Linked DNA regions of Homo sapiens. The protein of the gene in region 1 purifies or fractionates together with the protein of each later gene. This does not show direct contact. Each region holds a gene or a part of one and is shown on either strand. Other genes may lie near its edges.

Region 1 (4,286 bases):
TTAAAACTTTATTTGGCCAATGAATTCTGAGCACAATGTTTGAGGACCATATTTGCTACTGAAGCTCTGTGTGAAGGATGTGTACTTAATTTTCAGAATGTCGAGGTTAGATCATCTCTGATGGAGGCATTTTATATGAAACGTCAGCATTGGAAACATTGAGATAAAGATCGGGAGCAGGAATCTTTGAACTGCAGAATTGTGTTAATTGCTCATTCTCAAATATAGAGACGCCAATTAATTCCACACAACCTAGATTCAAAGCAGCACAGGGAAATGGTCCTGAGGTGAGTATTGTACAAAAATGAAGAAAAATAGATGTGTTCTAGCGTCCACAAAGCTGATTCTTCAACAGGCAGTAATAGAAGCCCAATGCACCCAGCGATTGGCTGATGGCATCTTTGTTCAGGCGATCGATGAGCGCCCTAACCCACACGCTGGGTGGAGAAATCCCTCTGCCACCCTCACCTTCAGAATCCACTGCTCAGCCACCTGGCTCCCGCGGGGTGCGCCACCGCCTCACTGCTGGTACACGTCTCCCCCTCTCGACCGCCAAGTGCTTGCTCCCTCCAGGCGAGCACTCACACAATGGACTCACTTGTTTCCCATGCCCCTCTCCTTTGACTTCCAGCCTCAGCGAACAACTTGAGCAAGAGTCAAACAGGAGTCTCTGCCATGGAGCATAGACCCTTGGAGCTTTCCAGACCAGCTCAGAAGCACGGGCGCACACACAGACAAAACAATGCCTTGTCCACGAATGAATAAAGGACACCCATGCCCCCACCCACCGCTCCGCAACCCGCAGAAAGAAACCCGGGACGGGGTTTCCTAAATAAGAGATTTTGTTGTGTCTTTCAAACTGCAAGCATTCCCCTTGAAGACGGCGAAAGAGAGGCTGTGCGTTCAGATGGCAATAAAGATTGACAGTGGCTTTGCCCGTGACAACGCCCCCAGCATCGCGCTGAGCCAGGTTCCCTGAGAACCGGGAGGGGGAAACGCAGATCTAGGGAGGAGGGAACAGCAGAGGCAAAGGCAGCTTGGGAGGGATGGGAAATGGAAAATCAGGGAAACAAACAAACAAACAAACAAAATGAATGAGTGAATGTGGGCTTGAATAGTAAAACTTCCAGAGAGAAGACGATGGGATCTCTCCCCAGGTAACTACCTGTAGATGAAAAATAGATGAAATACACAAGGAAGTGGCAAGCAACAACTTTGAGGTGAGCAGCAAGTTGTGCACCTCCTCTCAAGGCGCTGGATCAGCACCCCTGAGCTGCCCCCACAGCACACACTCCCAATGCGAGGCGGCGGCGGCAGCAACAGAGGCAGCAGCAGCAATCGCGGCAGCAGCGGCAGAGGCGGCGGCAGCTGCGCGCCTCGGGCCCAACCCCGCTCGGCTCCCCCTCTCGCCGGCGCCCTGCCTGTCTTGCGTGTGCGTGTGCGTGTGCTCAGCCTCAGCGTGAGGGGCACCTGCTCGTCTGGGCTCACAGCGAAGGCAGCCTCGCCGCGAGCTGCCGCTGCCGCTGCTGCCGCCACTGGTGTTGCCGCTCTCAGGCGCCAGGCTCCCCGTCGCCGCCGCCGCCGCCTCGCCAGCCAGAGTTGGGCTCCGTGGGCTTCCCCCCTCGCAGCCTCGGTCCTTCCCCGCTGCCTGCAAGTCAGCCTGGCTCCGAGTCACGTGTCAGTGCCTGAGGCAGAGACTGCGAGAAAAAAACGCGCTTCATTCCTTCTTCCACCGCCATACTGTATTTTATACTAAATCTCATTTTTATTCCAACATTTTACTCCCGCTCGGTGAGTACCTTCTCAGTGGCATTCTTGTCCTATTCTTTTTTTTGTCCTTTTTTTTGGTTTTTTGTTTTTTTTGTTTTTGTTTTTTTTCTTTTTTTCCACTTCTTTGATTATTGTTTATATTTGGGAAAGCTGGAGGAGCATGGTTTTGAGCCTTTTCCTGAATCCAAGTTTTTCTAGCATGCGATCGTTCTGTAGACAAGGCGCTGTGTCTCGGAGTCCGCGGCGACCGTGCCCGCTGGGAGCGTCTCCCAAGTCCAGCAAAATGTGCAACTGGTTTTATGGAAAAAGCGATGTGAAGTATGGTGCCTATTTTTTTCCTTTGTAAAAATAAAAAGCATGTTTCTAACTCTTTTTTTGCATACTCTTTTTCTGATAACATTTTTGTATAGGTGGGATTTTACGGCAGTGTTTACAAGTTTGTGGTCTTGCAATACTGGTGCAAACCACTGAGCAAAGACATTAATTTTATATTTTTTGTGCCCTTTTTGGAAGCCGGTGAAAACAAATTCGTTTTTTTTCCCTCCTGTTTTTGATACCCATTGATAACATGAAACTTTTCTTACAGCTGGTGATTGGGATCATTTTTAAGCAAAATACTTTTTTCCTCCTTTAAATTAACTATGACTTTTGCACATTTGACTTTTTTAAAAAACCGAGATAATTTTATGATAGATATCCTGATATCTATATCTATATTGTCCCTTATTTCTCCCCCTTCCCTCCCCGTAAATCAATTTTCAAATGATGGCAGTGGAAGGTTTTTCTGGAAAAAAAAAAATGAAGTGCGGTTTGGTTTCCTTGTCAACGGAGGATGAAGTGAACAGCTGAGCAGCTCGCAGAGAGCAGGTACTTGGTCCCCTTGGAGGCGTTTCCCGGGTGTGCAGTGGCAACACTGGTCCTAGCAAAGAAATGTGTGAGTGTGAGTGTGTGTGTGTGTCTGTGTTTGCGCGCGCGCATCTCCGGGCAGTGTCCGAGCCCGAGGTGGGGAGAGCGGCGCAGGGAGCCAGGGAAAACCAAAGTCCGTTCCCTGCTTCAGGATCGTTTTCTAGATGTGCGCAAAATACAGTCCCCTCCCCCCACCCCTCCCACGGTGAGCTGCGCCCAGGTCGTCTCCCGGCGGGGCGGGTGGCGTCTGCGCTGCGGGCCGCGCCGGCCGGGCACTAGGCGGCCGGCGGGCCCTGTAAGTTCTCCGAGGGCCACTTGCACAGCAGGAGGGGCGAGGGCCGTGTACGTGGCGCTGGCCGTCGGGCGGGCTAGAGGGGACCCTCAGAGCACCCGGGAGATGGGGGTAGAAGCGGCAGAGACCGCATATTCCGGAGGGGCTGGCTCCAGGCCACGCGAGCCGGAGCTGGAGACATTTCCAGAGCCTTGAGGATGGCACCGGCCCTCGCACGCTCAACTCCTGCTCCTCCTCTTCGCAATGAGTAAACGACGCAGTAGGTCCTACCCAGCCTATTTTGCTTTACCAAAGGGCTTTGCTTTCTTAGGGATGCTGTCTTTGGATCTTTTTTTTCCCTGTTGTGTTGCGTTGGTTTTAAGTGCCTGCTGGTGTCGTCTTCCAGGGGATGGGGAAATAGTTTCTTATAAGATGATCACTTGGGTTTAATGTTGAGGACGACGCTGTTAGTTTGCAGTAATGACCCTACACCTCTAAGGTATTAAAAAAATGCCTTTTATTTAAATTTTGTTAAAGGGGCAGAGTTTTCCCTCTTTTTAACCACCTGATACTGGCTCTAAAGGTTTTCCCCTGAGAACTGTGTACAGGGCAGGAGTGAGGGGTTGGTGATAGAGGTGATGATTTCGTGTGTTGGTAGCACTGACGTATTCAATGTTGAATGTATTCTATGATATTTTATGATTATCCTGTTACATGTTTTCAGTATAATTTAGCATTACTTTTCAGAGACGTACCAGTTGGCAATAAAAAGCCTTTTCTGTATTTAACACTGTGACCGAATCTGCTGGAAATTTTTCTGTCCAAATAAATTTCCTGAAGGCATACATCTTAAAATCTGGAGAGTCACCATTATTTAAATACTTTGATTTTGAAGCTTTGATTTTCTTACCTTTTCCCCCCTTAAATGAAAAGCTTAGCTTTAAATTACCATGTGTATATACTTTGAATTCTGTAAAATAAACATAAAGCAAATGAAACAACAACTTTTTACCTCTCAGATGAAGTTTTCTTCTAGGTAACTACAGAAATAAAAACTGACTGCAACATACAGAGGGGCCCATGACAAAGGGGTTTATAACATACACTGGCTTTTTCAAGCAAATATTTCACTGTCTGTAACCTCAGTTTGTGGAATGAAAGGTTTTACGCCTTAGTTTTTACTCTTTGTGGTCAAAAAGTAAGGCGTGCAATGGGCCATTTAACTGTAGAAGATTAAAAGTTAGTGTAATATCTGGAAAGTTGTATATATTTTTTATTCACAACTCATGCAAGTATCTCAAAAGTCTTTGGACATTTCATTGTATTTCCTGGCGGGGAA
Region 2 (3,500 bases), on another chromosome or scaffold:
CGAATTTGTGCATGTGCACACACGCCCTGCGTCAGTTTGTCCACAGGCAGGCTGACCTAACAGAGGTAATCACATAATAAAGGATAAAGTCCAGGAAGACATTTTCTGCTTCAGGTGGAAGCAGTATGGCAGTTTCCTTCTGTTGTGGCCCCCAGTGCACCTGAGAACAAGCATAACATGTCAAGGTTGAGATGAACATGACTCTGTAGACTTCAAAAAGAGGTGCAGTTGGTGGGAAGTCAAAAGAACCAGATTAAGAAAATTTTCATGGAAACTTCAGACTAATTCCCCTTGCCTCTGTCTCCCTGAATATAGCATAGGCCTAGGCAGTGAATCTTGTTGCAAGCCTGGTCCTAGTTCATGTTACTTCTAAAGCGAATCAAATAGGTATTTCTGGAGAGGACTCTGGCCTGAAAGGTGTCTCAGGAGGCCTGAGCTCTCATCCTGCCCTGGTTGCTGGTAACTTCTTTCCCCAGTCTTTCCTAGCTTAGCAGGTGGTTCTGTCTAGACCCATGAAGGTGACTGCTGGCCTGCCAGCATGGCCCCTCCATGGCACCAAGTGGCTGCATTTCTCACCACCTAAAGCCATCCAGCTCTTTCTGTGAGTGTTCTCTAAGGGCTACCAGGTACCTGGGACTGGGCTGGAGTTACGGACTTTTTTTGTTGCTTTTTTTTTTTTTTGAGATGGAGTCTCGCTCTGTCGCCCAGGCTGGAGTGCAGTGGCTTGATCTCGGCTCACTGCAAGCTCTGCCTCCCAGGTTCACGCCATTCTCCTGCCTCAGCCTCCCGAATAGCTGGGACTACAGGCGCCCACTACCACGCCCAGCTAATTTTTTTGTGTGTTTTTAGTAGAGATGGGGTTTCGCCGTGTTAGCCAGGATGGTTGCGATCTCCTGACCTCGAGATCCGCCCACCTCGGCCTCCTGAAGTGCTGGGATTACAGGCATGAGCCACCGCGCCCAGCCAAGAGTTATGGATTTTTAAATTCTGCACAGGCAATGAGGCTCCAGTTGTGCCTATGAGATGCAGCAGGCGTGTACCCTGTTGGAGTCTGGGACACCAAGCTGGGCCCTGCCAGGTGCCCCCCTTCTGAGATGTCCTGTTCTTTAGCTCCCTGGGCCACGTGGACTGGAAGTAGGAGCTTTCAACTGAGCTGGTGGTTTTCTCCCTTTCTTTGCAGGACAAGGAAGATGGGGAGCCAAAGACCAAGCATCTCAGAGAAGAGGAGGAAGAAGGCGAGAAGCACAGGTAATGCCCGTGTGCAGCTCCAGGGTCTGCTCTCTCCTCCAGCACTCATCGGTCTCCCAGTCTCTGGGTCCTCCCAACTCTGTTCAGTGTCTGCCCTGTTCCCTCCCCTCTTCTTTCTGCCCATGGCTGTCCTGTTCAGACCTTAAAATCTCAACATCTCAGAAGGCCCTTGTCGAGGCCTTCTCTGCCTCCTTTCCCTCATTTTCCATTTGGCTGTTACTCAGCCCCCAGCATTTTCTTTCTAGCCCTTACATTATGCCTTTTTACCCTTCTCATACACCTTTTGTGGCGTGGTTCTCCATTGCCTACTGAGTAAGTGCCCCTTCTGCACTTGGCATGTGAAGCTCTGCCTGGACCATCTAGCCTCATCCAACCTCCTCTGGTTTCCCTCTAGCCAGAGCCCTTTGTGGTCGGCCCTTGCCACCTCTGGCCACTCAGCATTTCCTGACCAGTCTTTTGTCCGTCCTCTCAGCCTGGAGGTCCTTCTCATCTCTCCTATACCTTTGATGTCTGGGTCTTCACATAGAGTTCAGCTCAAAGGGCGCCTTTCTCGTTGTCTGTGTCCCTCTGGCTTCATTTCCCTCTGTAGTATTTATCTTATTTTGTCGAATACTCTCATCTGGTTGGGTCCACTTAAGTTGCCTAAACACAGCACACGTGAGGGTCTTGGGTACACTTCCCTCGTGATTGCAGGCACAAGGTCTTCCCCCGCAGTCTTGAGGGCTGCAACCTCCACAGAGCCTCAGATGCTGCTTTGCCTCCCAAAAATCTGGAGCCTGGAAACTGTTGCCGGAACCAGTGTGTGGGGTGAGCGAGGCAAAGCTGTGCTGCTGATCTTTGTGAGCAGAGTGTCTGACTACCACTCCCGTGTCAGCAGTTCCAGAGGTCTCATGTCCTCCCTCCCATGCCTAGCCCTGAGATGGGGCTCTCTTCCTGGGGCCAGACTGTGTGTCTTTCTGGACAGGTTGCCTTGATTTCCTTTGCTCTGAGCAGCTTCCTTCAGGCACAGGGGGGTGTAGATCTTGATGGGCTTAGGCTCTGCTTTGCCCAGGGGGAGCGGGAGGGGAGGGAATGCTCTTTAGAGGAAGCTGGGCAGCCACACCAGAGCAGGCTTTCCTAATGCCACAGCCTTTTTTCACCTTCACCAGTATGAGTAGAACCTCCCCACATGCGGGCCTCATCTCTGCCTTTGTAATCAGGAGCAATCACAGACACGACTTACAGAGTGTTTTCACACCATCCTGAGAGCCCTGCAGAGTCCATGCCCCCTACTCGGGTTCAGACATGCTACCAGCTCTATGCTTAGAGGCTGGTGATGCTAAACAGTGAGTGGGTCTGCCGGCACTGGGCCTGGGGCTTTTTGTTGGGCCTCAGCCCCCAGCTCTTGAAGGTCCCTGGCTGGTGATGGGAAGATGAAGGCCAGTTAGTTGCTCCTTTGCCAGGTGACCCCAACATATGTGGCTTTATGGGTGGGTGCTGGCACAGTTTCCCCCATTCTGTGGTAACTACATATTAGAGGCCCTTTGGTCTTCTGGTTTATTCTTAGTTTCTCAAAAACTGGAACTCTGGCTGGAGCCTGAGTTCCAGTTTCTGGGCTTTGATTTGCTGGTGGTGTTTTCTCTGATCCCCACCCCTCCCCCTCCTCGATGAGAGAGAAGGGTCGCTGGTTTAGCAGGTGGGTGGGTGGGTCATACAGTAAGAGGCTTGAATGTTGAACCATATGGTTGTGAATCTCAAACATGGTGTTGAGTGAAGGAAAAAAGCAGGTTTCAGAATTGAGGCATACAGGGCAGGAACATTTATATCAAATTTAGGAACACAAAATGATATATGTGTGTTACTCAGTTGGCAAGTACTGACTTTATTGGTTGTCTGCTCTGTGCAGGGCACCATTGTGGGCCCCTGGAAGGCAACAGCAGACAAAGTACAGCCCCTACCCTCATGGAGCTGACATTTTCTGGAAGGAGACAGGCTGTTAACGAAGAAGCAGGCGTGTGATACAGTGTCAGGTGCTGCCAAGAAAGCGAAAGCAGAAGTGTAAACACATACATGAGGAGTGATGCCTCCGATTGCTGTCTGGGGAAGCAAGGAGGAAACAGGATTAGGGAAAGGCTCTATGATGTGTGATTTTTTTTTTCTTTTTTTTGAGATGGGGTCTCGCTCTGTCACCCAGGCTGGAGTGCAGTGGCGCTATCTCAGTTCACTGCAACCTCCACGTGGCTCCCAAGCTCAAGCGATCTTCCCACCTCAGC
Region 3 (3,500 bases), on another chromosome or scaffold:
GAGGTCAAGGATGCAGTGAGCTGTGAACACACACCACTACATTCCAGCCTGGGCAACAGAGTAAGACCCTGTCTCAAAAAAAAAAAAAATCAATAAATTTTTGCTACCATGGAAGGAAGAAGGGGAGAACGGATTGTGGTTGGTGGGGGTAGGTCACCTAACCATCTGCCAAGTAATTACTGTTATTACCACCACTATGATTGCGGCAACCTTGGTGTGCCAGGGCCCCCAGCACCCTGACACTGAACTCGCAGGTTCAGTGGTTTGCTAGAAAGACTCATGGCTTAGATTTATCACAGTGAAAGAGATCACAAAGCAAAATCAGCAGGGGGCGGGGTACCTGGGCTGAGGTCTGGAGGAAACCCGGCATGAACTTCCAAGAGTCCTTTCCCTGTGGAGTCCCAGGGGATGCGCTGAATTCCTCCAGCACTGAATTGTGACAACATGTGGCTTACCAGGGATGCCCACGAGAGATTCAGCACTCCAGGTTTTTAATTGGGGGCTGGTTTATTTTTATTTATTGTATTTATTTAGTTTTTAAAATTTCTTTTTGTTTTTGAGATGGAGTTTCACTCTTGTTGCCCAGGCTGGAGTGCAGTGGTATGATTTCGGCTCACTGCAACCTCCGCCTTTTGGTTTCAAGCAATTCTCCTGTCTCAGCCTCCCAAGTAGCTGGGATTACAGGTGCCCACCACCATGCCCGGCTAACTTTTGTATTTTTAGTAGAGACGGGGTTTCACCATGTTGGCCAGGCTGGTCTCGAACTCCTGACCTCGTGATCCACCTGCCTCGGCCTTCCAAAGTGCTGGGAATACAGGCGTGAGCCACTGTGCCCGACCCGTTATTTTTATTTTTATTTTATTTTATTTTTTGAGACAGAGTCCTACTCTGTTGCCCAGGCTGGAGTGCAGTGGCACAATCTCGGCTCACTGCAACGTCCACCTCCTGGGTTCAAGTGATTCTCTTGCCTCAGCCTCCCGAGCAGCTGGGATTACAGGCGCCCACCACCATGCTTGGCTAATTTTTTTCGTATTTTTAGTGAGATGGGGTTTCCCCATGTTAGCCAGCCTGGTCTCAAACTCCTGACCTCAGGTGATCCACCCACTTCGGCCTCCCAAAGTGCTGGGATTACAGGCGTGAGCCACCGCGCCCGGCCACTTTTAAAATTTTTTGTAGAGACAGGGTCTTGCTATGTTGCCTAGTCTGGCCTTGAACTCCTGGGCTGAAGCAATCCTCCTGCCTTGGCCTCCCAAAGTGCTTGGATTAGAGGTGTGAGCCACCATGTCAGCCTGGAGGCTAGTTTTGAACGCAGGCCCCTTCTGTCTAGTATGTACTGAAATTCCAGACCCCCCAGTAGGAAGGCGAATGCAGCGTACAGCGTGTTGTTCGCATAGTCCAAGCCTGGCCAGCCAGCCTCATCAGTTCACTGCTGACCTGGAGCACGCTGAGAGCAAATGGTCAGATGCCAGCAGGCCAGTCCGAGGAGAGGAGCCTCAGGCCTGCTGGGCAGCCCGTCTCCTGCACCGGCAGCTTAATAGTTCTCCCTGAAGCTGGGTGTCCCTATCTTTATCCCCCCAGGAGTGGGAGGAGCGGCGCAGGCAGAACATTGAGAAGATGAATGAGGAGATGGAGAAGATCGCCGAGTATGAGCGCAACCAGCGGGTCAGTGGTGCGGGTGTCCCCGAGGCAGGGCCGAGCTGCCTGGGCTGCGGGGAGCCCGCGCCAACCCCCTGCTCTGCTGCCTGCAGGAAGGGGTTCTTGAACCCAACCCAGTGCGGAACTTCCTGGACGACCCCCGGCGACGCAGCGGGCCCCTGGAGGAGTCTGAGCGGGACCGCCGGGAGGAGAGCCGCCGGCACGGCCGCAACTGGGGGGGCCCCGACTTCGAGCGGGTGCGCTGTGGCCTTGAGCACGAGCGGCAGGTGGGTGTTGGCAGTGAGGACACCTCGGGGCTCTCAGGGCTTTGATGGGGACTGCATAGCAGGAACCAGACAGATCAGGGCCATGGGGCCTCTCCTTTTTTGTGCCACAGCACAGGACTTTTTTTTTTTGAGACGGATTCTCGCTCTGTCACCCATTCTGGAGTGCAGTGGCACCATCTCGGCTCACTGCAGCCTTTGCCTCCTGGGCTCAAGCAATTCTGCCTCAGCCTCCCGAGTAGCTGGGATTACAGGCAAGTGCCACCACACCTGGCTAATTTTTTCGTATTTTGTAGAGACGGGGTTTCACCATGTTGGCCAGGCTAGTCTTGAACTCCTGACCTCAAGTGATCCACCTGCCTCGGCCTCCCAAAATGCTGGGATTATAGGTGTGAGCCACTGTGCTTGCCCAGGATTTTAATTATTAAGGATTTATGGTATGTTTTGTTTCCTGCCAAGGTAAATCTCCCCTCATTGTTAATGACACCAGCATTTATGAGGCACCTACCACATGGCAGGTGCTGTGTGAGGGGTGGGGACCTGGCCTAGAAGAGGAGGCAGGGGCAGTGTCCTTGCACTTGGTGGTCCACCCCTAAATTGTCCGTCTGTTGGTTCTTCTGTCAGTACCACGTGGCTCTAGTTGTTACAGCTTTGTGGTATGTTTGAGGGTTTTCTTGTTACTAACAGTATTGTTTACTGGGCACTTACTATGTGCCAGGTACTGTTTTAGGTGCTGAGGATAAGAGGTTTTTTTTTTTTTTTGAGATGGAGTCTTGCTCCATCGCCCAGGCTGGAGTGCAGTGGCGTGATCTTGGCTCACTGCAAGCTCCGACTCCCGGGTTCACACCATTCTCCTGCCTCAGCCTCCCCAGTAGCTGGGACTAAGGTGCCCACCACCATGCCCAGCTAATTTTTTGTACTTTTAGTAGAGATGGGGTTTCACCATGTTAGCCAGGATGGTCTCTATCTCCTGACCTCGTGATCTGCCCGCCTCAGCCTCCCAAAGTGCTGAGATTACAGGCGTGAGCCACCGCTCCTGGCTTTTTTTTTTTTTTTTTTTTTTTTTTTTTGAGACAGAGTCTTGCCCTGTTGCCTAGGCTGGAGTGCAGTGGCGCGATCTCGGCTCACTGCAAGCTCTGCCTCCTGGGTTCATGCCAGTCTCCTGCCTCAGCCTCCCGAAAAGCTGGGACTACAGGCACCCGCTACCACGCCCAGCTAATTTTTTGTATTTTTAGTAGAGACAGGGTTTCACCATATTAGCCAGGATGGTCTCCATCTCCTGACCTCATGATCCGCCTACCTTGGCCTCCCAAAGTGCTGGGATTACAGGCGTGAGCCACCGCGCCCGGCGGGAGAAGAGTTTGGAGGCAGAGCCCCTGCCTTGATGAGGTTTCTTCTGGTGGGAGCTGAGTAAATGAAAATATAGTGAGATGTGAGGTCCTACCAAGTGTTGTGGAGAAAAATCCAGCAGCTGAGGGGACAGAGGGATGCTACTTAGGAGATCTGAGAGGGCCTCTGTGAGGAGGTGCCACCTGAGCCTAGTTGATTGTGATCTCTGCCTTGTCATCGCTTCCCTGTGTG
Region 4 (3,500 bases), on another chromosome or scaffold:
AAAGTGCACGCGTGAGCCACTGCGCCCAGCCTCTAGTTTGTTACGTAGTGCATCTGTAGTTCACGGGTCCAGACAGTCATAGTCAATTCAGAAAATCAAAGCGAAAAGCTAGGCTTCAGGGCTCCTAGGATCCACAGAATATCTGGTATAGAGTATTCAAGGACTTCATCACCAGCATATAATCCTTTATTTTGCTTCAGTCAAGGAAGTGGCAGTTTGAGGAAGGGCATAACCACACCCTTCTTAAGTAATATGAAGTTTGCTCAAAGTTATTCTTGCTCCCAGAACATCCCCAGATTCTGTTAACAACCAATTAAGTGATCTCTCACCCACAGCATTATTTATGAACTCTATTCTAAGAGAAGGTATTACTTGGAAATAAGCTAACAAAGTTTGTTTTCCACTACGTAAAGCAGGAATTTCCTTTTGTCTTATGCTTGTTTCCTTCAGGTTTCTGCTGAAGGGCAGGGAATTAGCTTTGAGGTCAGTCCTAGCATCTTAGGGACTGGTGAACTATACTTTTCTCCTCCATAAATATACTGTATGGTTATTTATAAGCCTTGATCAAAATCAATTTTTAGCTCCCCGCAAAACAAAGGGGCCTCATTTTCTCATCCTTCCTTACAGAGCATCATATGTGTCTTTCTCTCTTCCTTCATCACTTTAGCAGCCCTTCTCTCGATCTTCCCTAGCTTTGCTATATCCTTGTGCTCCAACCAGCTCTATGCCTTGTATTCTACGTAAAGAGTAATCATGGGTTTGTCAAAAAGGAAGAGAGCATCCTCCTTGATAATGCCTGGTATCCTGTTGGCCTTTTTGGTCATGGACACATGGTGCTGAAACTGGCAAGGGGTGGTATACAGGCTCCACTTCTGGATCATCACTGATAATCCTGAATCCAACCATGGAGATTTGTTCCCAAATGCATTCTTACATTTCCCTTCAATGAAGCTCACCCAGTGTTTTCTGCCCTCACACATAACCTTTTCAAAATCTTCCTTAGGCTTACTTCCACCAGTGTAGCGTTTCACTCCCCATGATAGTTGTCACTCCTGGTGTACCATCCTTTTCAAGATTACTCATAAAATATTAAAATCTGGCCAGGTATGGTGGCTCACGCCTGTAATCCCAGCACTTTGGGAGGCCAAGGCGGGTGGATCACTAGAGCGCAGGAGTTCAAGACCAGCCTGGGCAACCCTGTCTCTACTAAAAATACAAAAATTAGGCTGGGCACGGTGGCTCATGCCTGTAATCCCAGCATTTTGGGAGGCTGAGGTGGGCAAATTACTTGAGGTCAGGAGTTTGAGACCAGCCTGGCCAACATGGTGAAATCCCATCTCTACTAAAAATACAAAAAAATCCGCCTGTAATCCCAGCACTTTGGGAGGCCGAGGCAGGCAGATTGTCTGAGCTCAGGAGTTCATGACTAGCCTGGGCAACATGCTGAAACCCCATCTCTAATAAAATACAAAAAATTAGCCAGGCATGGCAGTGTGCGCCTATAGTCCCAGCTACTTGGGAGGCTGAGGCAGGTGAATTGCTTGAACCCAGGAGGCAGAGGTTGTGGTGAGCAGAGATGGCGCCACTGCCCTCCAGCCTGGGTGACACAGCAAAACTCCATCTCAAAAAAAAAAAAAAAAAATTAGCCAGGCGTGGTGGCGCATGCCTATAATCTTAGCTACTCAGGAGGCTGAGGCAGGAGAATCATTTGAACCCGGGAGGAGGAGGTTGCAGTGAGCCAAGATCGCACCACTGCACTCCAACCTGGGCGACAGAGTGAGACTCCATCTCAAAAAAAAACAAAAAACAAAAAACAAAAAAATCAGTGAAGCCTCAAAACATTAAGAGGCTTAGGAAAGGGCACTTGAAGCAGAGAATATAAAAAACCATTCCTTTATAATTAAGATTTCAGCAGTCTCATCTATGAATCACACTTTCATGAAATTAACTTTTGCTTTGATCAGTTGACAGAACTTTTAGAATCCTGAAAATTTTCACAGAAGACTTCTAATAAAAGGTACCCAAGAGCTAAAATACTCAATATAAACAGGAAAAGAAAAAAGTCCCAACTCAAGCCAGTGCAATTTGCTTTTAGAAATTCCAACTAAACAAACACTACTCACAGAAGAATTCCCAAAGTTCCCCACACACTTGGGCCATGGGGATGTGAGCAAGATATCAACACCCTTAAACTGGGAGGTTGTACACAGCATCATTCTCAGAGAAGACACATCCTTGGGACTAAAACTATAACCTGGTACTGGCTCATTTAAGGATTCTGTCCCACTGAGGTACACAATCTGCAGCCCCGAGCTTCCAGTGAAGATACCTTTACGACCTGGGTTCAAAGAAAAATGAACAAATTTTAGTCAGAATTGCAGAATGAAAAGCCATCAATAGGGGGATGAATCTCCCATGACTCTCCTATGTCCCTGCCATTTTACATGTCTGAAGTGTAAACTCTCCAGCAGCTCCCTTCTGGCTGCTAGGCATCAATGGTGAATGGCTACAACAGTATTCCTGCTCAGTAAATATGAACAGCCCTACGTGGAGGCTGCTGGAGCCCACGGGCCAGTATGTTTATGCCAGGTGCCTTACAAATATTACTGGAAAAAGTTGGGAAGAGAAGATTAGGGAAAAGGCTTTCTGCGTTCTAGAGAAGATTCTACATGGACTTAAATGCAGACATCTGGACACAGGAAAAGGCAATGCGAAGAAAAATACAGTTCTAAGGAAGCTACAGTCTAGAAAAGATGCACATAGTGAAACCCCATCCCTACTAAAATACAAAAAATTAGCCAGGCATGGCAGCGTGTGCCTGTAGTCCCAGCTACTTGGAGGCAGGCAGCAACTTCCAAGTGAAGGAAAACATTTGGAAAGAACAAGTGTTTAGGAAAAATTTAAGACGCCACTCTCTTCTATGGTTATTCCTGGCTTGTGGCCTTGTTTCCATTCCCTCCTGTTGCCTTCAAGACCTTGCTCCATCAATTTTCACTTCCCTTTCATCTACTGAGTCTACTCAGCTGGCGCTTTTTGTTCAGAAAAAAATATGCTCAATCATCGCCATCCAAAATGAACACACATACTAAGAAACTTCCTCCTCTTCAGTTTTGAATTTCTGAAGAGTCATCCATGCTAAGTGCTTTACCTTTTTTTTTTTTTTTTTTTTTTTTTGAGATGGAGTCTCGCTCTGTTGCCAGGCTGGAGTGCAGTGGCGCAATCTTGGCTCATTGCAACCTCCACCTCCGCCTCCCGGGTTCAAGTGATTCTCCTGCCTCAGCCTCCCAAGTAGCTGGGACTACAGGTGACCGCCACCATGCCCAGTTAATTTTTCTATTTTTAGTAGAGATGGGGTTTCATCATGTTGGCCAGGATGGTCTCAACCTCTTGACCTCGTGAACTGCCCACCTCGACCTCCCAAGGTGCTAGGATTACAGGTGTGAGCCACCACGCCCAGCCTACTTTATTAGTTCCTTAACCCCCTGCAATCAGTTTCCCTC

Evidence for each region.
Region 2: the proteins of RALYL (region 1) and CCDC12 purify together in Homo sapiens (affinity purification with mass spectrometry; 3 studies listed by BioGRID and IntAct, with this or other methods). This does not show direct contact.
Region 3: the proteins of RALYL (region 1) and CCDC9 purify together in Homo sapiens (affinity purification with mass spectrometry; 3 studies listed by BioGRID and IntAct, with this or other methods). This does not show direct contact.
Region 4: the proteins of RALYL (region 1) and CWF19L1 purify together in Homo sapiens (affinity purification with mass spectrometry; 2 studies listed by BioGRID and IntAct, with this or other methods). This does not show direct contact.

What each region holds. Positions count from the first base shown.
Region 1 is NC_000008.11:84,181,788-84,186,073, forward strand, and holds the start of RALYL (RNA-binding Raly-like protein), read left to right. Parts: upstream 1-1,486; 5' UTR 1,487-2,637; intron 2,638-2,883; exon of another isoform or gene 2,884-3,211; coding exon of another isoform or gene 3,212-3,227; exon of another isoform or gene 3,228-3,396; coding exon of another isoform or gene 3,397-3,446; intron 3,447-4,286.
Region 2 is NC_000003.12:46,938,746-46,942,245, reverse strand, and holds part of CCDC12 (coiled-coil domain-containing protein 12), read left to right. Parts: intron 1-1,180; coding exon 1,181-1,248; intron 1,249-3,489; exon of another isoform or gene 3,490-3,500.
Region 3 is NC_000019.10:47,263,025-47,266,524, forward strand, and holds part of CCDC9 (coiled-coil domain-containing protein 9), read left to right. Parts: intron 1-1,578; coding exon 1,579-1,662; intron 1,663-1,748; coding exon 1,749-1,922; intron 1,923-3,500. UniProt on the Homo sapiens protein: Probable component of the exon junction complex (EJC), a multiprotein complex that associates immediately upstream of the exon-exon junction on mRNAs and serves as a positional landmark for the intron exon structure of genes and directs post-transcriptional processes in the cytoplasm such as mRNA export, nonsense-mediated mRNA decay (NMD) or translation.
Region 4 is NC_000010.11:100,254,139-100,257,638, forward strand, and holds part of CWF19L1 (CWF19-like protein 1), read right to left. Parts: intron 2,339-3,500; coding exon 2,124-2,338; intron 1-2,123.